4 separate regions of the Homo sapiens genome follow, and all the other regions are linked to region 1. The links come from fine-mapping of genetic effects on gene expression. A gene starts in region 1. Each other region holds a variant in brackets. All regions are shown on one strand. Distances are from middle to middle. Region 1 holds the start of RALGDS (ral guanine nucleotide dissociation stimulator). Region 2 has its middle 19 kb from the start of CEL. Region 3 has its middle 20 kb from the start of GBGT1. Region 4 overlaps RALGDS (ral guanine nucleotide dissociation stimulator).

The links.
Region 2: its variant is fine-mapped to the expression of RALGDS in cerebellar hemisphere (GTEx, PIP 0.93).
Region 3: its variant is fine-mapped to the expression of RALGDS in whole blood (TOPMed, PIP above 0.99). The same link has a PIP of 0.9 or more in T cells and blood mononuclear cells.
Region 4: its variant is fine-mapped to the expression of RALGDS in nasal epithelium (TOPMed, PIP above 0.99).

What each region holds. Positions count from the first base shown.
Region 1 is chr9:133,118,551-133,124,594 of GRCh38, forward strand. It overlaps RALGDS (ral guanine nucleotide dissociation stimulator), which reads right to left and starts at 2,690. Exons shown (of 18, transcript NM_006266.4): 1 at 2,422-2,690. The coding sequence starts at 2,604. RefSeq lists an enhancer at 1,594-2,290 and a silencer at 2,270-2,979.
Region 2 is chr9:133,078,133-133,084,176 of GRCh38, forward strand. It overlaps the pseudogene CELP. Among named protein-coding and RNA genes, the nearest start is that of CEL, 19 kb to the left of the region's middle. The variant T/TG (reference allele first, on the strand shown) is at 3,328.
Region 3 is chr9:133,141,008-133,147,051 of GRCh38, forward strand. It overlaps a transcript of RALGDS not described here. Among named protein-coding and RNA genes, the nearest start is that of GBGT1, 20 kb to the right of the region's middle. RefSeq lists enhancers at 1,302-1,581, 1,632-1,681, 2,081-2,210, 2,261-2,350, 2,803-3,362 and silencers at 3,509-3,608, 3,639-3,758. The variant T/C (reference allele first, on the strand shown) is at 3,512.
Region 4 is chr9:133,095,288-133,101,291 of GRCh38, forward strand. It overlaps RALGDS (ral guanine nucleotide dissociation stimulator), which reads right to left. Exons shown (of 18, transcript NM_006266.4): 17 at 4,981-5,095; 18 at 2,435-3,475. The coding sequence ends at 3,300. Among named protein-coding and RNA genes, the nearest start is that of RALGDS, 23 kb to the right of the region's middle. RefSeq lists an enhancer at 5,915-6,004. The variant G/A (reference allele first, on the strand shown) is at 3,426.

The DNA.
Region 1 (6,044 bases):
CAAATTACTTAGCCAAGGACCTCCCCAAAACCTGCTGGCTCTTATTAGCTGTTATCTTAAACCTGTGGGGTCCAGTTCTGGGCTTGCTTCCTCCAGGTAGCTCTCCCCAGCGTCCTGTGGCCCAAAGCACTTTTGCCTTCCTCTGAGCCATAAGCTTCCCTACTGCTCACCTGACCTCAGGGCTTCTGGGCTGCCTGGGCTTCCTCTGACTCCTGGTGGCTCCTGCACACAGTAGGTGCCACAGAGAACACAGCCCATGCTTAAATCCTGGCTGCGGCCCTTGCTGGCTGCACGGGTGTTTAGGTCAGAGACTTCCCTTCTCTGACCCCCTAGCTTCCTAGAAGGTGGTGTTGGCACCTACTCTGTAGGGTTGGTCTAAGGCAGATGAAGTGAGGGGGTGGCCCACAACCTGCACTTTTTGTCTGGCCAAAGCAACAGCCTGTCCAGAGATGGGGGCACGGACCAGGTCACCTCCAGAAAGCAAGAACTGTGCAGGCCAAGCTGGGTCATTGGTGGCTTGGCTTAGAATCGGGAAGATAAGCGGAAGCCCAGATGTGAGGAGATCTGGCAGCCCAGAGGGAAGCACCGGGTGGAAGCTAGGTAGGGAAACAGGGATGCGGGGGAAGGCAGAAACTGTCTGGTGGTTTCCAGAGAGGACAGGGACCAAGTGCGCAGCGTCAGCTCTGGCAGGCCACATAGACACCAGGAAACCAGCCCCAGGACGGGGGGTGTTGGCAGGAGGGACAGGGACTTCCCCGCCCCCTCCCTTGGGCCCTTGGTAAATGGTCATTGTGTTCAGTTTCCGGCAGTGGCCTCCTCTCCTGCCAGGATCCTGGTTTTCCTGACCCAGCCAGAAGCTTCCCCTTTGATTTCTAAATAGCAGTCGAGGTCTGGATCTCAGTGCTGAGGCTGGGCAAGGAGCGCCAGGGCCAGAGAGAGGGAAGACAAGACCCCCAGGCAGGGGTGGGGCTCAGCTCTGCCTCTCCCTCAGTTCCTCAGGGACGGAGAGAGGGAACCTGCACGGCCACTGTGAGCGCTCCGCCGGACCCTCCCAGCACACAAAGCCCGAGCTGCTGCCAGAGGTAATGAAAGCCAGATGAGCGCTGGGCTGGTGTCAGCCTCCCACCCCCACCCTCCCAGGGGTCCCTCTCCAGCCGCCAATGAGGACCAGAGCCCTGGATAGATGAGGGTTGAGGGAACACGTCTGGTCCGGCCATCTGCCAAGCTCAGGAGGAAAGGGTCTCTCAGGCGTGTGGTGTTCCCCCACCAAGAGCTCTGCCCAACACTGGGCGGAGAAACAAGTCGCATCCAGGCCCTGTCTAGGTACCGGGACACCAAGAGGCACGAGACTCAGGCTAACAATCGCCAGCAATCACAACGCGCCACAGTCTAAAGCCATGAAGCGACTGGAGACGCAGCAAGGCAACACGATGCCGCACGGGGACTCAGGAGGTTCACTGTGAAGGCTGCAGCCCAGCCAAAGCTCTGATGGGCCCTGAGCCCCCGATCCAGGAATGGCCTCTGTGCAGGCCCTGTGCCCAGGCAGAGCAGGGCGAGGGGGGCATCTCTGGATTCCACTCCCTCTGCTGTGTAGTCAGCAGCAGTCAGGTGGGAGGCAGATGGCACCACCCAGAGACCCAGGGCACACGAGAAACAAGCCCCCGCCCTCACCTAGTCACCCTCCCCTCCATCCATCACAGGTACACCACTCCCTTCTCTGAATCCTACCCAGTCCTTACCGATTCAGGGTGTTGGCACTCTTTCCAGTTAAGCAGAAACAAGTCTTGCCCGCCCTGGGCCTGGGCCACCCTCCTCCCCTCACCACCAGGACATCTGGTCCCACGTGTTGGAGGCCTGCTGCTCCACCCCATCCCCCGACCCCCCCCCCACCCCGCTCTGAGCAGCCCCGATGTCCCTGGTCACCAGATCCACATCTGCCCCAAGTAGGGTCTGTCTGGAAGGCCCCTATGGTCTCATCACCTCTGAGGATTCTAGGATTTGGCCTTCCCGACCACTTGTTCCACACCTGCATCGTAAAGGCTAACGACGCGCTGCGGGCCCTGGGTGGGAACTGAGTGAAATAAGGCACAGGCCACCGATGTAAACAGGGACAGTGCCGCAGAAAAAGGTCCACCTGGGCTGCAGCGGCCTTGGTGACAGCAGGCCCTGGAACGGTATTGAGGGGCGCAAAACCCCAGCCGTGGTCCCTACTGTTGGACGGGGCGCGGCGGCAGCCCCCACTGCCCACCCTGCTGGCTGATTTCTGCAGAAGGCCCCGACCCCCACCTATGGAGGAGAGAGGAGGGAGGCGGCCCGCTGGGATCGCCCGGCCCCGTCCGGGGCTCGCCCCGACCTGCCCAGCTCTGCCGCGGGTGGGGAGGCTCCGACGCACCCCCCGCCCGACCGCCCCAGCTCACCCACCTCCGGGCGCGGCAGGTCGGGGTCTAGCTGCGTGAAGCTGTGCAGCACCACCGGGCAGCTGTCGGGGACGCCCACCTCCAGGCGCACGGCGTCCCACACGCTGCGGCTCCGCCGGGAGCCCGGAAACAGCGGCTCGGCGCCGCCAGCAGGCCCGGCCGCCTCGGCCCACATGCGCTGCACCATGGAAGGCTCGCAGCGCGGGCGCGGGGCCGGCCCGGCGCGCGGCGGGGGCGGCGGCGCGGCCCGCGCGGCTGGGCTTTGCCACCGCTGTGAGCCCGCGGCCCGGCCCTGCTGATGTCAGGCTGGGGGGCGGGGCCGGAGGGGAAGAGGGTGGGGCCGGGGAGGGGCGGAACCGGAGAGTCCGAGGGACGCGTGCGTGCGCGCGCCCGCGGCCCCGCCCTCGCCGAGGTCAGACCCGGGGCGGGACCGGGAGCCTGGAGGGGCGGGGTCTGAACAAAGAGGGCGGGGCCGGGGAGGTCGAGGGGTGCGCGTTGGCTGGGTCTCCCGGAGGACCGGCTGTCACGTGTGTCGTGGGGCCTTGGGTACCCCGGTTAGGCACCGTTTGCGTGTCACGCTGCTGCAGTGCGTGTGTTGCGTAGGGCTGAAATGTGTACGTGCTGATCATGTGTGGGGAAGCCGCCCTGGAGTCAGCTACCCCGAATTCCAGCAAAGCCTCTCCCCAACTCTGTGGCCTTCCACAAGTTGCTTAACCCCTCTGAGCCTCACTGTTTCTTCATCTGGAAAATCTGGGTAGTGAAAATGACTTCCTCAAACAGTTGCGGGGAGGATGACATTACGTAATGGACATGAAGCACTCAGCACTGAGCACCTGCACCTGACTACAGGCTCAGGCGGAGTTTGGAGAGGCTGACCATGTGTTCAGTGACCCTGTCAGTGCAATTGGAAATCCTGAGTGTGGGGCTGTGTGTGCAGTGGGGGAAAGGGTCAGAGAGTGGGGCCCTACCTTTTTGGGGCAAAGCCCCACACTATCCCCTTACAGACACCCTCAGAGGAGGGGAAGCCAGGGAGGTGGGGGAGAGCGGAAGGCACCAAGGTTGGGGCTGAGAGGCATCTGACAAGGAGGAAGGCATCAAGAGTGACAACGCTGGGCAGAGCACATGGCTGCGTGGCCTGTCAGCTGGGGCTGCTTGTGGCTTGGACATCCCTGGTCTCAGGGTGGAAGTGGGGCTGCTGGGGCTGAAGGGGAAGCAGGGACAGGGACATCCTCAACTACTCTTTCTGGAAGCCAGTGAGGAAGGAAGACAGCCTGGGGCTTAACAGCAGGGCCAGGAGAATGGATGAATGAATGGGACCCTTCCTCATGCCTCACTCATCACTGGGCCTGCCCTGGCCTCAGCCTTCAGTCTTCATGGAGGCCAGCAATTGCTGCCAGCAGCCCTGGCCATGCCAACCTCCCCAGGTCTGGTCCGTACTATTGGGCCTCAGTTTCTCCATCTGTAAACTGAGAGGGCGGGACCAGACAGCACATTCCACGAGCACATCTTGCCCCCTTCCCAAGTGCCAATCCTCAGACACCCACGAAACACTTCCACTGTGACTGGAGTGAGGCGGCAGTTCATCCGTTCAGAACAAGACCCCCATGTGCACACGACTAGAAGGGCCTACTTCACAAAAATTATGGTGGTAAGTTGCAGCTGGGTGGAAGCTCTACTGGTTTTCATTTTACTTCTCTGAATTTCTAATTTCTAAAATCAGTATTTTAATAATCAGCTCTATGTGATAAATGCTGTTTTTGAGACAGTCTCACTGTCACCCAGGCTGGAGTGCAGTGGTGTGATCTCGGCTCACTAAGGCCTCCGCCTCTTGGGGTCAAGTGATTTTCCTGCCTCAGCCTCTCGAGGAGCTGGGATTATAGGCACCTGCCACCATGCCCAGCTAGTTCTGTATTTTTCGTAGAGACAGGGTTTCACCATGTTGGCCAGGCTGATCTTGAACTCCTGACCTCAAGTGAACCGCTCGCCTCGGCCTCCCAAAGAGCTGGGATTACAGGCAGGAGCACTACGCCCAGCCTGTTTTTGTTTTTTTTTTAAGAAGCAAGATGGGTAGATTTGATTTGGGATGGAGATCCCTAGAGGCTGTTTAGGAAGCCTCCAAGCCGTTTGGCCAGGGAGGGTAATGTGGGTGAGGCGTATTTCGAGGCAGGAGGTCCCCACAGGGCCACAAAGAGGTGACCGAGACACTGCCCTCGGCCCTAAGCTCCTCCTCCCATCCCTTTCTTCTGGGGCCAAGCTCCCAATGCCTCCGGAAACTGAAAGTCCAGAAGCTGCCTGCCACTGACTTTATCTCCTCTGCTCTCTTTATCTCCTTCGCTGAGTGATGGGCCTGGGAACAAGCGCCCACCCGTTTTATAGCCCAGAAGGACAAGTGACTCATGAGGACATAGAGGAATCACCACTATTCTGGCCTTGAAGGTCCTGGGTGCTGGGGCGAGGGGTGGCCCCAAGGAGGCTGGAGTGGTGAAGAGTAAAGAATTCATCACACTAAACCCCCCAACGCGGCTGGCCTGGCTCCCTCCCATCTGACTATATCATCTACAGGAGCCAGGGCGGGGGAGGGCGTTACTTAGCCAGTCCCTCTGGCCGGTGTCTGTTTTTACAAAGTTCCTCTTCCTGCCTTGTTCCCCTACCTTTGGGACTCACCTCCCAACTTCTGGGAAGCCTGATCACTGCTCTGGCTGTACATGAGACACACACACACAGACAGACACAAAGATACACAGAGATGCACACACAGAGACACACACATAGAGACAGAGACACAGACACACACACACACACAGAGACACAAAGATACACAGAGATGCACACACAGAGACACACACAGAGAGACAGAGACACAGACACACACACACACACACAGACACACAAAGATACACAGAGATGCACACAGAGACACACACATAGAGACAGAGACACAGACACACACACACACACAGAGACACAAAGATACACAGAGATGCACACACAGAGACACACACATAGAGACAGAGACACAGACACACACACACACACAGAGACACAAAGATACACAGAGATGCACACACAGAGACACACAGAGAGACAGAGACACAGACACACACACACACAGACACAAAGATACACAGAGATGCACACACAGACACACACATAGAGACAGAGACACAGACACACACACACAGAGACACATACATAGAGACAGAGACACAGACACACACACAGACCCACAGAGACACATAGAGACAGAGACACAGGCACACACACACACACATAGAGACAGACACAGAGACACAGACGCACAGAGACAGACACAGGCACACACATTTAGAGACGGAGACACACACACAGAGACATTGGAACAGAGACACACACGCAGAGATAGAGACACACAGACAGAGACATACCTACTCAGAGACATAGAGACAGACACAGAGGCTGGGTGTGGTGGCTCATGCCTGTAACCCAGAGCTTAGGGAGGCAGAGGCAGGATTTCTTGAGCCCAGAAATTGGAGACCAGCCTGGGCAACATAGCAAGACCCCATTCTCCACAAAAAGGGAAAAAACAAGTTTGAGATAGACACAGACACACACACACAGATATAGAGACATAGACACAGATACACACAC
Region 2 (6,044 bases), 40 kb before region 1:
GACTCAGTATGAACCTCAAACCAAGTCCTAGGTAAAGACTTAGAAGGTCATAGCATATATAAGGCTGGCCATTTCCTGGGTCACAAATTGAATAGGTGATCCGATTGTAAGTACAAGTTCCTAGGTGAGTCCCTGTACACTCCTAATAAGTATAGAATAATAGAGTCCTAGTTATACTGTTTCCTGACCCTGTAGTGTGTGTACAATGGGGACACTTTCTAAGGGTACTTATTTTAACATGGTCAAGGGGGGTGATAACAGCAAAACAATGTACAGCGTATTCATATCCAGCAAGGACAGAAGAGGGCCTTGCCTGGGGGAGGAGATTGAGCACAGCAACGGAACAATAGTAAAACAGTTAGTATTATAAGGAAGACTACTAGTCCTAAGATTTCTAACCACATTTACTTGCTTGACGAGTCCTCAAGCTTCGGCCGTGCGTAGACTAGTCAGCTTCGGGTGTGTGACTAGAGCGGGGCTTGTCTCCTTAAGCTTCAGCCGTGCGTTGACTGGTCAGCCTCACGAGTGACCAGAGCAGGGTGATCGTCCTCAGCAGCAGCTTGTTGTCTTCTCAGGATCAGCTGGGTTGGATGATCTGTGTCCTGCTGGCTGGTCCACTCGTCCTGAGCTGCCGGTTTCAGCCGACTGTGGTGGATCCAAGACATAACACCTGCAACTTTAACAGCAACGGGAGTGGACAAGATGACAGTACAGGGCCCACCCCATATGGGTCCTAGAGAAGTTGGATTCCACTTTTTAACCCAAACAGAGTCTCCAGATTTAAAGGGGCACACTGGTCTATCAGGCTTACAGGCATCCTTTCTTGTACCCAGCCATGGACCTCTTGCATGGCTATTCCTAAAGCCTGCATTTGCTTTCTTAAGGTTAATTCCTCTAGTTCCTGGAGATCACCTTTAATTTGACCTATGATTTGGGGTTGGCCAACTGAACAAAACCTCATAGGGTAAATACTCAGTTTGTTTGGTGGGGGTGCACCTGTCTCGGAGGAGGACCATAGGCAAAACCTGAACTTATCTCAGATGAGCTTCCTGGCAATATTTCTTCAGTAGCTGCTTGAGTGTCCACTTCATGCGTTCCACTTTTCCTCAACTATGCAGCCAATAGGCTGTGTGTAACTTCCATTTTATTTTTAACAGTCTTGTTAAATCTCGTACTATTTCAGCTACAAATGCCGGCCCATTGTCTGACTGTAAAGATAGAGGCAGTCCAAACCTGGGGATAATATCTTTTAACAGTACTTTAGTCATTTGTCGTGCTTTTTCTGTCCTGGTGGGGAAAGCTTCAACCTATCCTGAAAAAGATGCAAATAAACACTAGAATATACCGATAGCTTCTGGCACGGGGCATTTCGTTTAAGTCTATAAGGAAGTTTTCACAAGGCATGGCTCCTTCTCCTGTTCTGTTTCCCAGAGGAGGGGTTCCTTTTCTCCTCTTTTTGTAACTTCATATAATAGCTCAGCCATCAGCGAGAAATCTGGAATCCAGATACGGCAGAATCCTGCTGCCTTCAACTTCTAATGTGACCACAGACTCCTGGAGGCCCAGTGAGAAGGAGCCCGGTCTGTCCTAGTCCTCACATCCTTCAGCTCCTGCCAGCCCAATCAGATTAGTATCTGGTTCCTCTAAGGTATGGCAGCCCTTGGCCAATGGCCTCTTTGTCTCACGGCCTTGGCCATTTCCCTCATTGCCTTCTGGACATTCATCCTTCCAGTGCCCCCTTTTTTTTTTTTTTTTTTTTTTTTTTTTGCATCTCTCACATTGATCCCTCTCTAGCCTTGGTCAGCTCTTAAATCCTTGTCTAACTTGACCTCTTCCACGTCCACATCTGCGTCCACATCCTCTCACATGGCTAATTTCTCTTTCTATAAGGGCTGCTGCCAACAGATCCGCCTTTTTCTTAAGCCTTTCATCTGCTTCCTTTTCCCTTCCTTAGTTCTCCTGCTCCTGCAGTCGGCTGGCAGGGCTGGGCAAGGACAAACCTGAATATAAAATTCAGTGTGTCTGCTGCCCACCAGTCCTTTATGCTTGGAGAAGAGAGAGATGTTTCTCTTTTTCCTCTCTTCTATCTATTAAACCTCCGCTCCTAAAGTCCTCGTGTTTGTCCCTGTCCTAAATTTTCCTGGTGCATGACGACAAACCCCGGGTATGTAGACCAGACAATGTAGCCGCTTCAAGGGATTTGAGTGAGGAAGGAATGAATCAATGGAGCCCAGGGGGGTTTTAGAGCATTCAAACTATTCAGGATGATACTATGGGGACCAAGGGAGAGCTTTCCCCTTCTCCCTCTGAAGGACCACTGAAAAATCACTGACAGATTGTCTCATAGGAGAAAAGCATACATATTTGTTTAATGCGTATACACGGGAGCCTTTGAAATGGAGACCCAACTTCTCAACAGAGTACAGAGCTTAGATACCATCTTGAGGTTCCACAAAGAATGTGGGCTCAGAGCATGGCCAAAACTAGGTTAGGGGCTGGGCGCAGTGGCTCACAACTGTCATCCCAGCACTTTGGGAGGCTGAGGCGGGCAGATCACTTGAGCTCAGGAGTTCGAGACCAGCCTGGCCAACATGGCGAAACTCCCTCTCTACTAAAAATACAAAAATTAGCCGGGTGTGATGGCGGGCGCCTGTAATCCCAGCTACTTGAGAGGCTAAAGCAGGAGGATCCCTTGAGCCCAGGAGTTCAAGACTGCAGTGAGCTGTTATTGTGCCACTGCCCTCTAGCCTGGGTGATAGTGAGACCCTGTCTCAAAACAAACAAAAAAACCCCTAAATCTGTGGACTCTGGGTGATTATGACATGTCAATGTAGGTTCATAAAGTATAACAGCTGTACCCCCTGGTGGGGGATGTTGATAATGGGGGAGACTGGGTTGGGGCGAGGACATACGGGAAATCTCTGTAACCTTCTTCTAATTTTGCTGTGAACCTAAATCTGCTCTAAAAATGTATATATATAAAAAGTGGGGCCTTCCTTTCCCTCTCCCCTGCCCCAGCCCTCTCCCCCACCTCCTTCCTCTCCCTGCTGCCTCCCCTCTGCCCTCCCCTTTCCTCCTTAGCCACTGTAAATGACACTGCAGTGAATATCCTGGAGCACAAAGGGCATGTCTCCCAGTTCAGAATTACCTCCTTTATTTAGGGCAGGTTCTCAGAACTAGAGTAGCCGGGCAAAGGTCTGAGGCAAATGCCTTTGCCCTGGGGCGCCCCAGCCACCTGCAGGCCCCTTATTTCCTGTGGCCGAGCTCCTCCTCCCACCCTCCAGTCCTTTCCCCAGCCTCCCTCGCCCACTAGGCCTCCTGAATTGC[T/TG]GGCACCGGCTGTGGTCGACAGACAGAGGGACAGACGTGGCTCTGCAGGTCCACTCGGTCCCTGGCACCGGCCGCAGGGGTGGCAGAACGGGAGTGTGGTTGGTGTGGGAAGCACAGGCCCCAGTGTCTCCTGGGGGACTGTTGGGTGGGAAGGCTCTGGCTGCCCTCACCCTGTTCCCATCACTGCAGAGGGCTGTGCGGTGGCTGGAGCTGCCACCGAGCGTCTCGGTGAGGGTGACCTCACACTGGCTGAGCTTACAGGCCCCATCTGAAGACTTTGTTCGTGGTGTTCTTTCACTTCTCAGAGCCTTTCCTGGCTCCAGGATTAATACCTGTTCACAGAAAATACGAGTGGCCTCCTCTTCCTCCACAACCTCACAGGACCTTCTCCCTTCCCTCCCGCTGGCCTCCTTTTCTCTCCTGTCACTCTGCCTGGGCATGCCCCAGGGCCTTGGCTGTGTCCTTTCTTTCCTCAGGGAAGACCACAAGTTTGGGCTAGATGCCTCCGCACCCCCCCACCCACACCCCCTGAGCCTCTAGTCCTCCCTCCCAGGATGCATCAGGCTGGATGGTGACATCTCCCCACCCTTGAATGAGACGGCTTTGTGCTGCTCTGGGACCCGCACCCAGCTTGGACTGCTTGCTCCATGGCCCCAGGAAAAGCTCGTACAGATAAGGTCAGCCACTTGGGTGGGGGGCCCACAGCATGTCACCCTCTCTGTCCCAGAAGTCACGTGCTTGGTCCCCTGTGAAGCCCCTCTGGGGACCTAGGGGACAGGCAGGGCATGGAGACAAAGTATGCCCTTTTCTCTGACAGTGACACCAAGCCCTGTGAACAAACCAGAAGGCAGGGCACTGTGCACCCTGCCCGGCCCCACCATCCCCCTTACCACCCGCCACCTTGCCACCTGCCTCTGCTCCCAGGTAAGTGGTAACCTGCACAGGTGCACTGTGGGTTTGGGGAAAACTGGATCTCCCTGCACCTGAGGGTGTAGAGGGGAGGGAGTGCCTGAGAGCTCATGAACAAGCATGTGACCTTGGATCCAGCTCCATAAATACCCGAGGCCCAGAGGGAGGGCCACCCAGAGGCTGATGCTCACCATGGGGCGCCTGCAACTGGTTGTGTTGGGCCTCACCTGCTGCTGGGCAGTGGCGAGTGCCGCGAAGGTAAGAGCCCAGCAGAGGGGCAGGTCCTGCTGCTCTCTCGCTCAATCAGATCTGGAAACTTCGGGCCAGGCTGAGAAAGAGCCCAGCACAGCCCCGCAGCAGATCCCGGGCACTCACGCTCATTTCTATGGGGACAGGTGCCAGGTAGAACGCAGGATGCCCAATTCCATTTGAATTTCAGATAAACTGCCAAGAACTGCTGTGTAAGTATGTCCCATGCAATATTTGAAACAAATTTCTATGGGCCGGGCGCAGTGGCTCACACCTGCAATCCCACCAGTTTGGGAGGCCGAGGTGGGTGGATCACTTGAGGTCAGGAGTTGGAGACCAGCCTGGCCAACATGGTGAAACCCCGTCTCTACTAAAAATACAAATATTAATCGGGCGTGGTGGTGGGTGCCTGTAATCCCAGCTACTCGGGAGGCTGAGGCAGGAGAACCGCTTGAAGCTGGGAGGTGGAGATTGCGGTGAGCTGAGATCACGCTACTGCACTCCAGCCTGGGTGACAGGGCGAGACTCTGTCTCAAAAAATAGAAAAAGAAAAAAATGAAACATACTAAAAAACAATTCACTGTTTACCTGAAATTCAAATGTAACTGGGCCTCTTGAATTTACATTTGCTAATCCTGGTGATTCCACCTACCAACCTCTCTGTTGTTCCCATTTTACAGAAGGGGAAACGGGCCCAGGGGCAGGGAGTGTGGAGAGCAGGCAGACGGCTGGAGAGAAGCAGGCAGGCAGTTTGCCCAGCATGGCACAGCTGCTGCCTCCTATTCCTGTGCAGGAAGCTGAAAGCCGAGCTACTCCACACCCGGGTCCGGGTCCCTCCAGAAAGAGAGCCGGCAGGCAGGAGCTCTCTCGAGGCATCCATAAATTCTACCCTCTCTGCCTGTGAAGGAGAAGCCACAGAAACCCCAAGCCCCACAGGAAGCCGGTGTCGGTGCCCGGCCCAGTCCCTGCCCCCAGCAGGAGTCACACAGGGGACCCCAGATCCCAACCACGCTGTTCTGCCGCCTGCGGTGTCTCAGGCCCTGGGGACTCCTGTCTCCACCTCTGCTGCCTGCTCTCCACACTCCCTGGCCCTGGGACCGGGAGGTTTGGGCAGTGGTCCTGGGCTCCTGACTCAAAGGACAGGTCACCTTCTTCTTGGGCGAGCTCTTCTTGGGGTGCTGAGAGGCCTTCGGCAGGTCATCACGACCCCTCCCCATTTCCCCACCCTGAGGCCCTCAGGATGGACAAGCCCAAACAAAGCAACCCCCACGGCCCCGCTAGAAGCAAAGCCTGCTGTGCTGGGCCCAGTGACAGCCAGGCCCCGCCTGCCTCAGCAGCCACTGGGTCCTCTAGGGGCCCGTCCAGGGGTCTGGAGTACAATGCAGACCTCGCACCATTTTTGGCTGATGGACTGGAACCCAGCCCTGAGAGAGGGAGCTCCTTCTCCATCAGTTCCCTCAGTGGCTTCTAAGTTTCCTCCTTCCTGCTTCAGGCCCAGCAAAGAGAGAGAGGAGAGGGAGGGGCTGCCGCTGAAGAGGACAGATCTGGCCCTAGACAGT
Region 3 (6,044 bases), 22 kb after region 1:
AGCCCAGTACCCAACTCCGGAGGTGGGCACACCCCTTGCCCATTTGACAGATGGGGCAAGGGAGGCTCAGAGGGGTGAAATCATGACCCAGGGTCACACAGTGAGCAAATGACCAGGGTCAGACTGGCATCCTGGCTCCATGAGAGCACCGGGAGTTCCTGCAGAGTTGTCACCAACAGTCCTACCCTCACTGCCATCCCCAGAGAGAACATCTGAGGCAACCAGGTCTCATAGCCTTCCCATCCCCAAAGTCCAACCCACTGGGCAGTGTGGCCCCACCTGCCTTTTCCCACCATTCTACTGCCCCACCCTCTCCCAGGGTCTGGGGCTCCACCTCGCTCCTTCCAGGCTGGACACCCCTCATCCATGTTCTCACCTCGGCTCCCGCAGTGCCCAAGTCTGGGTGCAGGGTGGGTGCCCACAAACTAAGGCAGCCCCTATGGGAGCCCAAGGGCAGGGCTTTCTTACACCCTCACAGCAACTGCGGGGACCTCAGGGCAGACAGGGAGGCTCAGAGGGGACCTGTGCTGCTTCTAGGATGCCCAGCAATAAGCGCTGAGCTGGAATTTGGACCCAGGTGTCCTGCTCCAAAGCCACCTGCCTCACCTGAGGACCAGGGGCCTGATGGCCGAGGTGGATGCCGACATGTGAGGAGGAAGGGCAGTGGCGGCCTGGTCCTGGTCCCCTCACTCTCCTGCCCCAAGGCCCCAGTAGGTGACATAATTCACAGGGCAATGTTTATGCACTGAACGGTAAACACACAGGCAGAGGGGTAGATGGGCCACCAATGGGGAAACTGAGGCCAGCGAGAAGGGACACACTAAGGTCACATAGTCAGTCGGTATCAAAGTTGGCCCAGAACCACAGTCCCCTGTTCCAAGGGCTGTACCCAGCCCAACCACAACCTGGCATGCCATCCAGCCCCAGGCCAGGGAGCCCACGGCTGCAGGGCGGCAAAGCACACGGTACCACACGTGGTACCCCATGGCCCCACACACTCTGGCTGGCACCGAGCCATCGCTGTGCTTTCTGACCTTGCGTTTTCTGACATTCTGCCACTGTCAACTCTCACTCAGGTATCCAGGAAGCGGCCTCTGTTGCTAGGGGACTGGCTTGATGCCGGGTGGCTGGCAGAGTGGGGAGATGGGGAGGGGGGAGTGGACTGGGGTGTCCCTCAGGAAGGATCCAGGGGCAGAGTCTACTGGGTCCTGTGTCAGGGTGGAGGGCCATGAGAAGTATCTGAGGAAACTCAGCAGGTCAGGCCCCTTCCTCCCCAGGCTCTAATGAAGGTCCTGGACCCTGGTCTCTGCATTTTCTCTTTCAGCCTCAGAGTCTTCTTTTTGGGCCAGGGGTGGGTGTGCGCTGGTGGGGGTTGGAAGTGAGCCATCGGAAAGCCCATCGGAAAGCCCCAGCCCGGAGCCTTCCTGCAGGCAAGTATTTTGGGGGCCAGCAGTTGCCAAGCAACTGCTCTGGGTTGCCACGGGAACACTCCCTTTTTTCTGGGGCTTGTCATTCTTAGGGGGATGCCACAATGCTTCCCGTTCCCTTTCCTCTCCACTTCCTCACCCTGGCTTGGCTGCCCTGGGAGGGGACACTGGGAGTCCATAAGCTCACACCCCACCCCTATGGGGGGGCCCACATACCCCTGGCCCTAAGACTCTTTGAGGCTCCAGAATCAAGAACCCCCAAAATGCAAAGCCCAGAGTCCAAGGCCTTCATTAGAGCAGGGAGACGATGAAAGGGGCTCATTAGCTCTGTTTATGTCTCCTTGCCGCCATTAACCACCACTTGGGGCCTAGGGCCTCCCAGCCCCGCCCTGCCCAGCAGCCGGGCCCAGCCCTGACCGTTGGAAGGCCACTGTAATTGGAAGGAATGTGGTCCTGGTGCCTGGCCCTTCCCAGGCTTGTGTGCACACGGGGAGGCGCCATTGCCAAGCTGCCACTACCTAGCTGTGGGAGTTCCTTCCCCTTCCAGTGCCTCAGTTTCCCCACCTGGAAGTGAGGATGGCAGTGGCACTTATCTTGCAGAGTGCTGAGCAGATACAAGGGACACTTTAGCACAAGGCCTACAGGCTGGCTGTCATCACCAGGCACCTCTGCAGCAGGGGACAGAGGGAAGGACTCTGTGGAGAATAGTCCTGTGGCTAGCGTGCAATGGTGACTGACCACGCCACTGATGGCAGAGTGGCCACTGAATCCAGGTCCCCAGGCTCGCAGCCCATGCCTTCTCCACAAGATCTGTCTGCCCCATACCCCTGAGCCTTCCACAGAAGCCAGGGTGCTTCCCACAGGCCAGGCACCCAGCGCCAGCCAGGTGTACAGAGGCCAGTATCTGCTGTGTGAATCAATCGCTGAACCAACTGTCAAGGACCAGCAGCCTCAGGGGCGGGCCTGGTAGCTCGGTGAGCGAGGAGGTGGTGGGAGGGCCTTGTGCGGGTAGGGAGGTGACAGTAAGAAATGGCCTCTTGCTGGATGCAGTGTCTCAAGCCTTTAATCCTAGCAGTTTGGGAGGCCGAGGCGGGGGGAATCCCTTGAGCCCAGGTGTTTGAGACCAGCCTGGGCAACATGGTGAAACTGTTTCTACAAAAAAAATCCAAAAATTAGCTGGGAGTGTTGGCGTGCACCTGCCGCCCCAGCTACTCTGGAGGTCTGAGCCCAGGAGGTCGAGGACGCAGTGAGCCGTGATCTGGCCCCTGCACTGCAGCCTGGGCCACAGAGCAAGACCCTGTCTCAATAATAATAATAATAATAATAATAATAATAATAACAACAACAACAACAATAATAATAATAATAATAATAATAATAATAATAAAATAAAGGAATGGCTTCCACTCATTCCACTCCTGGGCCAGCGGCCCGCTGTGCACTCCGCTCCCTTTCGCTGATGCCATGTGAGCAGCTCCATGGCGGGGACCTGACCCCTGCTCCTCAGCCCCACACTGCCTCGCCCCTTTGTATATCAAAGGCGCCTCTGAGGGGCTGTGCTGACCCCCACCAGGAGCAGCAGGACCACCTCAGGCATCCCAGCTCCCCTGAGGCAGGGTCTGGGGCTGGGGTTGGGGGGAAGGACCCCTCAAGTCTCTATCTGCACAGACAGCCCACCCGTGCCCAGGGCTGCCTTCCGAGCACCCGCAGACCTGGGCCTGCAGTAACAGGAGAGCTATCTGCAAACCGCAGTGTCATCAGCCGCACGGCCTCTGGAGAGGCCTGAGAAAGGCCGGCTCAGCTTGCAGGCGAGGAACCAAACGAAAGGCAAACTCCTGGCCCCTGCAGCCTCGCAGGTCCCCTATCCCTCCTCCCTGCCTTCCTTTCCGCCCCGCTGACACCACGGTCTGCAAACCATGGTCCTCCTCGCCACCCCTGTCACCTCCTCCTCCGCCCCCCGCCGGCCTCCGACGCAAAGTCGCCACCCAGTCACCCCGCCTCGGCCCCGCCTGGTTTGATTTCCTCCCGTGTGTGTCACCCATGAGGTGGCCGTGCCCCTGGCCTGTTTACAGCTGTGCGCAAGC[T/C]CCTCGCGACCCGAAAGCGAGACCTTTGTCTGCGGCAGCTCCGCGCCGGGCTGGGCGGCCGCACGGGAGGGCACAGCGCCACCTGCTGGTGCTGCCGCCAGAGCGCGCCAAGCTGAGGAGCAGGCGGGCTCCGCTCACGCCCCCACACCCCCTGGCTGGGGGCTGGGTTCCTGCGATGTCTTCCGACTCCCCGCTGCTCCCCTAGTCCCCGTAGGCACGCGGGTACCCGGCCTTTGGGAGGGGGATCATTCCCAATACTCCTGTTACGGGTTGAACTGTGTCCCTGAACAAAAAGATCTCTGGTACCCGTGAATGAGATCTTATTTGGAAATAGGGTCTGTGCGGATAGAATCCGGATGAGGTCATACTGGATTAGGGTGGGCCTTAATCCAATGACTGCTATCCTTATGATAACAGGGAAAATTGGACAGACACGCACAGGCGGACAGACACGAACTGATGAAGGCACAGTTTGCAGTCACACGTCTACAAAACCAGGAACGAATGCCAAGGAAACTGGCAGCCACCAGAGGTTGGAAGATGCAAGGAAGTATCCTCTCCTAGAACCTTCAGAGACAGCATGGCCTTGCTGACCCCTGGATTTTGGACTTCTGGCCTTTAGAACTGTGAGAGAATACATTTCTGTTGTGTTGAGCCACCCAGCACTTTGTGACAGCAGCCCAGGAAGCTGACCCGATAGACACTGGTCCCAGTCATCACCCTCTGTGCCATCACCACACCTCCCCTCCACGAATCAACCACGACCACAGGACACCTCCTTCTGGAATCTCTCTGTGCCCACGCACTCCCCAGATGAGCACTTCCCCTTCCCCTGGCAACTCCCCGGATTCTTGTTACCCCCACCCCCCGCCCCGGCATGGCCTGGGCCCAGGAGACAGATACGAAATGAATGAGTGAATATCCACCTTTGCTACTTCGTCATATTCAGATGTTCGTAAAAATCTGTATGTTCGTCATATTCAGATGTTCGTAAAAATCAAGTGGCAGCAGTGCTGGGGGTTAAGGAAATGGGGAGAGTGATGGCAGATGTGTGAGGGGAGACAAGGGGCACTTCCAGGTACTCACAGCCACCCTGGGAGCTGGGACAGCCAACCAGTGTGTTCTCATGCTCCCAGCCCCTGAGGCTCAGAGAGGGGAAGCCATCTGGGTCACCAAGCTCCTGCCTCTTGCCAGTTCTGTGACCCCAAACTAGCCATTGTGCCTTTCAGGGCCTCCCCAGTCTCCTGACCTGCACAATGGGGATGGTTCTAACGTCTACTTCCTGGGGACATCACCACGCTAATGTGAGACAATACTACAAAACCTGTTAGCTGCCTCACAGACTTAGAGATGGAAGGATTAGGAAGGAAAAGGGCCTTCAGAGACTGCAGGGTCCTGCTGACCCCTGGATTTTGGACCTCTGGCCTTTACAACTGTGAGGAAAGAAACTTCTCACAGGGGCGAGACACAGCCCGGAATACAAGTCGGACAGGCTGGGCACTGGTGCTGTGATCTGGGGAAAGTCACTCCCTTCTTGGTCTGGTTTCCTCATTTGCACCATGAACGGGTTGAAAATGAAGCAAAAATCAGATATCGGCCCCCTGTGGCATATGGGAGCATCTTCCAATGGGAACACCTTCCAATGGCTCCCATGATGTTTGTTTGTTTGTTTGTTCGTTTGTTTATTGAGACAGGGTCTGGCTCCGTCGCCCAGGCTGGAGTGCAGTGGCATGATCTTGGCTCACTGCACTCATCACCTCCCAGGTTCAAGTGATTTTCCTGCCTCAGCCTCCGGAGTAGCTGGGATTATAGGCACCTGCCGAGACACCCAGCTAATTTTTGTATTTCTTTTTTGTAGAGACGGGGTTTCACCACGTTGGCCAGGCTGGTGTTGAACTCCTGACCTCAGGTGATCCACCCGCCTCGGCCTCCCAAAATGCTGAGATTACAGGTGTGAGCCACCGCGCCCAGCCTCCGTTATGTTTAGAATCAGGCCTGACTGCCTCCTCTCAGACACTGTCCCAGGCAGCCTCCACACTGGCCCCAGAGATCCCTGCCTCCTGGTACATAAGTTGCTGAGTGATCCCCTTCCTCCGAGGGTGATTGGATTTAGTGACTGGCTTCTCACCAACAGAACACAGCACAGGTGATGTGAGGTCACTTCCAAGATTTACAAAAAACTATGACTTCTGTCTTGCTTGTTTGCTCTTGTTTTCCTCCCCACCTTCACCCCTCACTCTGGGGAAGTGAGTTCTGATGCCGTGAGCTGCCTGCCCTACAGAGAGACCCACATGGCAGTGAACCAAGGGAGGGCCCCCACCAACAGTCACAGAAGAACTGATGCCCTCAGTCAAAACTGAATCCTGCCAATAACATGAGAATGGCCTGGGGGCGGGTCCTGCCCAGTCCAGCCATGGATGAGACCCCAGTCCCAGCCTCCCTTGAGACCTGGGGGCAGAGGCACCCAGCTGAGCTGCCCTGGATCTGGGTCCACAGAAACTGTGTGATGATCAATGTCTGTTGCTGGAAGCTG
Region 4 (6,004 bases), 23 kb before region 1:
AATTTAAGTAGTATACACTGCTATTACACATCTTCCCTCTGTCAGTCACAGATTATATCTTTATACATTGTTTCCATTAATGTGGATTTATAGCTTTATGAATTTTACCTTTAAATCATAAGAAAAAAGGATGAGTTACACAAATCCAAAGTGAAATAACACTGGCTTTGCTAACTACCTGTTAGTTATCTCTACCAGTGTTCTTTAGTTTTTCATATGGCTTCAAGTTACTGTCTAGTGTTTATTTTAGCTGGAAGGACTCCCTTTACCATTTATTGTAGGGCAGGTCTACTAATAAAACTCCCTTAACTTTTATCTGAGAATGTCTTAATTTCTCCTTCATCCTTAAAGGATGTTTTGCTTCTTCTTTCAGCACTTTATTTTGAGAATATTTTTTGAGACGGAGTCTTGCTCTGTCGCTCAGGCTGGAGGGCAGTGGTGCGATCTTGGCTCACTGCAACCTCCGTCTCCCGGGTTCAAGCGATTCTCCTGGCTCAGCCTCCAAATAGTTGGGACTATAGGTATGTGCCACCATGCCTGGCTAATTTTTGTATTTTTAGTAGAGACAAGGTTTCACCATGTTGGCCAGTTTGGTCTCGAACTCCTGACTTCAGATGATCTGTCCACCACGGCCTCCCAAAGTGCTGGGATTACAGGTGTGAGCCACCATGCTCAGCCTTCTTTCAGCACTTTAAATATGTCATCCTATTACCTTCTAGACTCCATGGTTTCTGATGAGAAATCAGCTGTTAATCCTGAGGATCTCTTGTATATGATGAATCTCTTCTTGCTGCTTTCAAGATTTTCTGTCTTTTGACAATTTGACTAATAAATTTGGGTATGGATCTGAGTTTATCCTGTTTGAAACTCATTGAGCTTCTTGGATATGGAGATTTATGTCTTTCATCAAATTTGGGACGTTCTGGACCATTATTCAAATAATCTCTGCCTTTTCTGAACTCTCATTAAATGTATGTTGGTACATTTAATGGTGTCCTACAAGAACCTCTAGTTCTGTTCATTTTTCTTCCTTTTTCTTTCTGTTCCCTGGACAGAATAATCTCTATTGCCTTATCTTCCAGTACACTGATTCTTTCTTCTGCCTGCTTAAATCTGCTGTTGAATCTCTCTAGTACATTTTTCTTCTCAGTTATACTTTTCAGCTCCGGAGCTTCTGGTTGGTTTTTATAATTTCTATCCCTTTATTGCTAATCACCCATTTGCTCATACATTATTTTCCATGGTTTCCTTTAGCTCATCAAGCATATTTAGGACAAGTGATTTAATGTCTCTGACTAGTAATTTTAATGTCTGAGCTTCCTCAAGGATAGCTTCTGTTAAATCCTCTTTTCCCCTGTGAATGAGCCATATTTTTGTTTCTTTGTAATTTTTTGAGAACTGAACATTGAGTATTATAATGCAGTGACTCTGGAAATCAGATTGTCTCCCTCCTCAGGAATTGCTTTTTTGCTTATTGAAGGATGCAGTCTTCTGTGTCCATAGTGACTTTTCCAGGCTTATATTCGTATTTTTGCCAGGCTTATATTTGTATTCCTTGTTGTGTATAGTCACGAAGTTTCTGTTCTGTTGTCTCTTGGTCAGCCTGTGACTTGATGGAGATCCTGTTAACTGTTGGAGTTCAGCAGCATCTCCCTTCACCAAGTGTTCCCCTGGTGACTATGTCCGACCAGGTTCCAGAGTCCCAAAACAGTTTATTCTGATAGTTTTCTTTCTTCCAGCTTAATCGTTGTTTCTGTGCAAAAACTGAACCCTGGGGCCTCCTACTCTGCCATCTTTTGTCACAAATGTTACTTTATTATTATTATTTTTTGAGACAGAGTCTCACACTGTTGCCCGGGCTGGAGGACAGTGGCGTGATCTCAGCTCCCTGCAACCTCCGCCTCCCAGGTTCAAGCGATTCTCTTGCGTCAGCCTCCCGAATAGCTGGGATTAAAGGTGCCTGGCACCATGCCTGGCTAATTTTTTTTATTTTTAGTAGAGATGGGGTTTCACCATGTTAGCCAGGATGGTCTCGATCTCCTGACCTCATGATCCACCTGCCTTGGCCTCCCAAAGTGCTGGGATTACAGGCATGAGCCACCACGCCTGGCCACAAATGTTACTTTTAAAGACAGCTAAATTTCAGAAATTCTTGCTATGCCTTGTGAAAGTACCTCCAAACTCTAGTCCCAGGAGTTCTGAGGGCTGTCTCAGCACATTTCCCAGTTTAATGGTGCCAAAAGGAACATCTGCTGTATGAAAGGTAAACTTTTGTGTTTCCTTCAGTGTGCTGAGAAGAGTGGCTGGCTTTTCCTGTGCATAAAATAACTGGATAACCCTGCAAGGGTCCTTACTTAAACACGGAATGTGAGAGTCTCTATCTCATTTTAATTAAGACAGGTAATGAAAGAACAAAACTGTAATGACCAGGGTATAGTAGAAACAGGATTTTAATATAATATTCAAGTCTAGCATTTGCTATTTACAACAAATAAATATTGCCCCTCCCCAATCAGTAAACAAACATTTTTTTTTTCTTTTTGCTTTTTATACAAATATTCAATCACCCCACCCCCACCCCAAATCCTCCTTCCTCACTAACCCCCGTCTTGCATGGTCTCGTAAAGCCCAGGACGCAGTGGTGAATGGCACTTGCAGTGGCATGAGATTCAACATCGATGGGACTCAGCTGGGACTGTCCTCACTCACCGGGTGCAGAGTCTGGTCCATGAAGAGGGTTTCTCTCTCTGCTCCCAGGGGAGGGCTGGGGTAAGCGGTGGGTGAGACTCCCTCACTCTCAGTTGGCCCTGATGATGGAATCTTTGGTGCAGCCTGAGAAAGGCTAGAGTGGTGGGAGGGGCCGGGACCCCTGCGAAGGTCACAGGCCAGTGCCTGTGGGCATGAGAGAACTGCAGTGGTCACAGTGGGTGCTCTGGGGTGCCCATGGGCACAGGTGGCAGTGACCCACACCTGGGAAGGTGTCAGGGAAGTGTACAGAGGTGGCGCCCGGGGGCAGGCAGGGCACCATGCCATGCCCGTTGGCACTGCTCCTTGGCAAAAGTCAGCTAGTCCTCTGGTTCCAGAGAGCAGAAGGCACCTAAGGCAGCGAGTGGTCCACGGGAGGCCAGGTCAGCCTGACCAATGGCAGGCGTCAATCCCAGCAGCGGGAGAGGTTCAGGATGAAACTGGAGTCTGGGGTACCCTGGGCTGGCAGGTGGGAGGAAGGCGCCCAGCTGGCCTGGGCCACTCTGGTCCATAAGTGCTTGGCTACCAGCCAGCCAGACCCTGGGAGGATGCCCTCAGAAGATGCCCTTGGCAATCTTGAGTCCTTTCTGCTTCATGCGAGGGAGGGTGGAGCTGGCTCCGTGCTTGACCTTCACTCCCTTGGTGAAGGTCCGCTTCTTGAGGACAAAGTCATAGTTGGC[G/A]GTAGAGTTCATGGCATAGAAGACGTTGGCGTTTTCAGGGATCTTCAGCTCTGGTGGGGAGGGGCAGAGGGGTGATCAGGGATGCTCCTGGGGGCCCTGCAGGATACCCCTACCGCTTGAGAGCCCATACAAGGACTGTCTTGAGCCACAGACCTCAGATCCCCTCCAATACAGCTCCAGAACTCCAAGGACCCCTCTCAATGACTCCTGCCTGAGGACAGACTCTGCTGAGGTCCTCACAAAACCTGATGACTCTTGTTTAAACAGGGACTGACTCCAGAACCCCCCGGCTTGGCCTGAGCTGGCAGAGGGTCACCCCGTCCTGCCCATACTGCAGTGCTGGCTGCCCACCTGGAACAGGCTTTCTAGAATCCAGGTCACCTCCCAGAATCCTGCCCTACTCAGGACAAGGGATCCAAGGACCAGGAAAGGACAGGCCTGCCCCAGGGCTCTGGCGCCCGTTCCAGGGAGGCCTGTACTCCTTGAACCCTGGCACCCGGCAAGCACTTCCTTTTGGCTCCATTTCCCACCATCTCCTCTGGCCCACAGCCTGCTATAAACCAGAGCTGGGCTCGATTTGTGCTCCTGCCGACATCGTGTGGCTTTTCGTCATCTTTAACCTCTCTAGGCCTCAGTCTTCCTTTTCTGTAAGATGGGGGTCCCGCCTACCCTGCCCACCTAACCGAAATGGTGCAAGAAGCTGCCAGAGGATTTAGACTGTAACTTCTAGGGATCACAGGAGTCATTGCTTACTGTCTGGGCTAATGGTGGGAGGTGGTGTTCAGCTCACTGGAAAGAAAACAGCGATGATAGTATTTATAGTTAACTTTTATGGTGCACATAGATGCTTTATATATACATGCATATATATACACACACATATACATGCATATATATACACACACATATACATGCATATATATACACATATATACATACATATACACATATATACATACATATAGATTTTTACATATATGATGAACACACTGGCTACTTTCATTTCCATTTGGGGGATGAGAAGACAAGCACAGAGGGCTTAAGGAGCTTGCCCAGCGTCTCCAGGCCCAGGATACCCCACTCTGAGCCTGCACTGGTTCTTGACACTTTCCCAGTTTCTAGAATACTGAGTTGGCCTCCTAGTAGCCTGTTCTGCTTTTAGAATCACACACTCATGGATTTTAACACTTGACACTTTGGTCCACAGCTGTCACCATTCTTTGTAGAGCACATGTTTTCTTGTCTTAGCCAGAAAGAGTCCCTTCCAGTGGGCCACGTGGCTAACCTGTCCCAGTGAAAAATGCCTTTTCTCTTTGCTCCTCACTGATGTGAGCTTTGAACTGCCTGTTCACGCCTAGGGAAGGGCACACACTGGGGAGGTCCAGTGGTTGCTGGGGACAGCAAGCAGACAATGGGGGCAGCCAGGGCTGCCCTGTCCACAGTGTCTACCCACACTCTGCTGGTGAATTTTCTGGGGCCAAAGGCTTCCAACCTGGGGCTGGGGAGTGGTGTGGACCTGCCCCCTCTGCCATCGCCCTCTGGTCTTCTGACTTACTCCGGTCATCTGAGAGAATCTGCAGCAGCTCATAGTCCTCCGGCTCCTCCTCCTCCAGGTTGTGTTTGTCCATGGCCTTGCGGATTACAGCCGGAGCCTTATCTTGGCTGGTCACCTGCATCGCGGCGGGGGATGGACCATCAGGGAAAAGACCCTGGAGCGGCTCCCCCAGAGTGCAGTGGCCAAGGACCCTCTGGAGTCCCCTCAGCACCAAGCACAGGCACTCACAGCCTCTGGCCAGGTGCTGGGTCCGGAGAGGGCCTTGTCACATTCTCCTACTCCCCAAGTGAGGCCTCCGTCCTTCTGTTCCCCATGTGAGGCCTCCATGGAATGAGGAGGGGTCTGTCCCAGCAGTGCCTACCCTGCTTCTCCTGTAAGAGACTGTTCCCTCCTCCCACACTTCCTTGAGAAGCACTTGCCCCTCCAGGATAACAGCATCACTGAGCCTGGGGAACAGACAGTCCCTAGTCCAAGCCCTGGAGGTAAGAAAGGAGGGGCCGGCCAGGATGCTCAGTGTGGTCAGCATAGGCCAGGCCCCTGCTACCTTGACCCTGAGGGCCAGAGCACAGGCGGAACTCGGACATAGGGCCACAGGTGACTGCTTAATGACAACCATGCTAGCTCCTGGCAATGAGGGGTCAGGAGCGTGTGTGAATAATGGGGCACCTGACCCAGGGCTGGGGTACAGAGGGTGGGGGTTACAAATGGTTCATCTGTCGCAGGACACCTGGAGGATGAAGAAAGAGCCCCCAGGCAAACCCATTCTGTGAGCAATTCCCATCTGCTGTCTCCAAATCCTGTCTAGACTCTGACCCTGCTGGCCCCTTCCAGGGCTCCCAGCCTGGTTGCCACAGCGGCCTCCTAACCAACACCCCTGCGGCTCTGGTACCAGCCCACACCAGACAGAGAAGCCAGCCATCATTGCTCCTGTCTTCCTCCCCGAGAAAGTCGAGGTCCTGGCAGGGCTCAGGGCCTATGTGGCCAGGCCCTGGATACTTCCCTGACCTCACCTCCCCTACAGCAC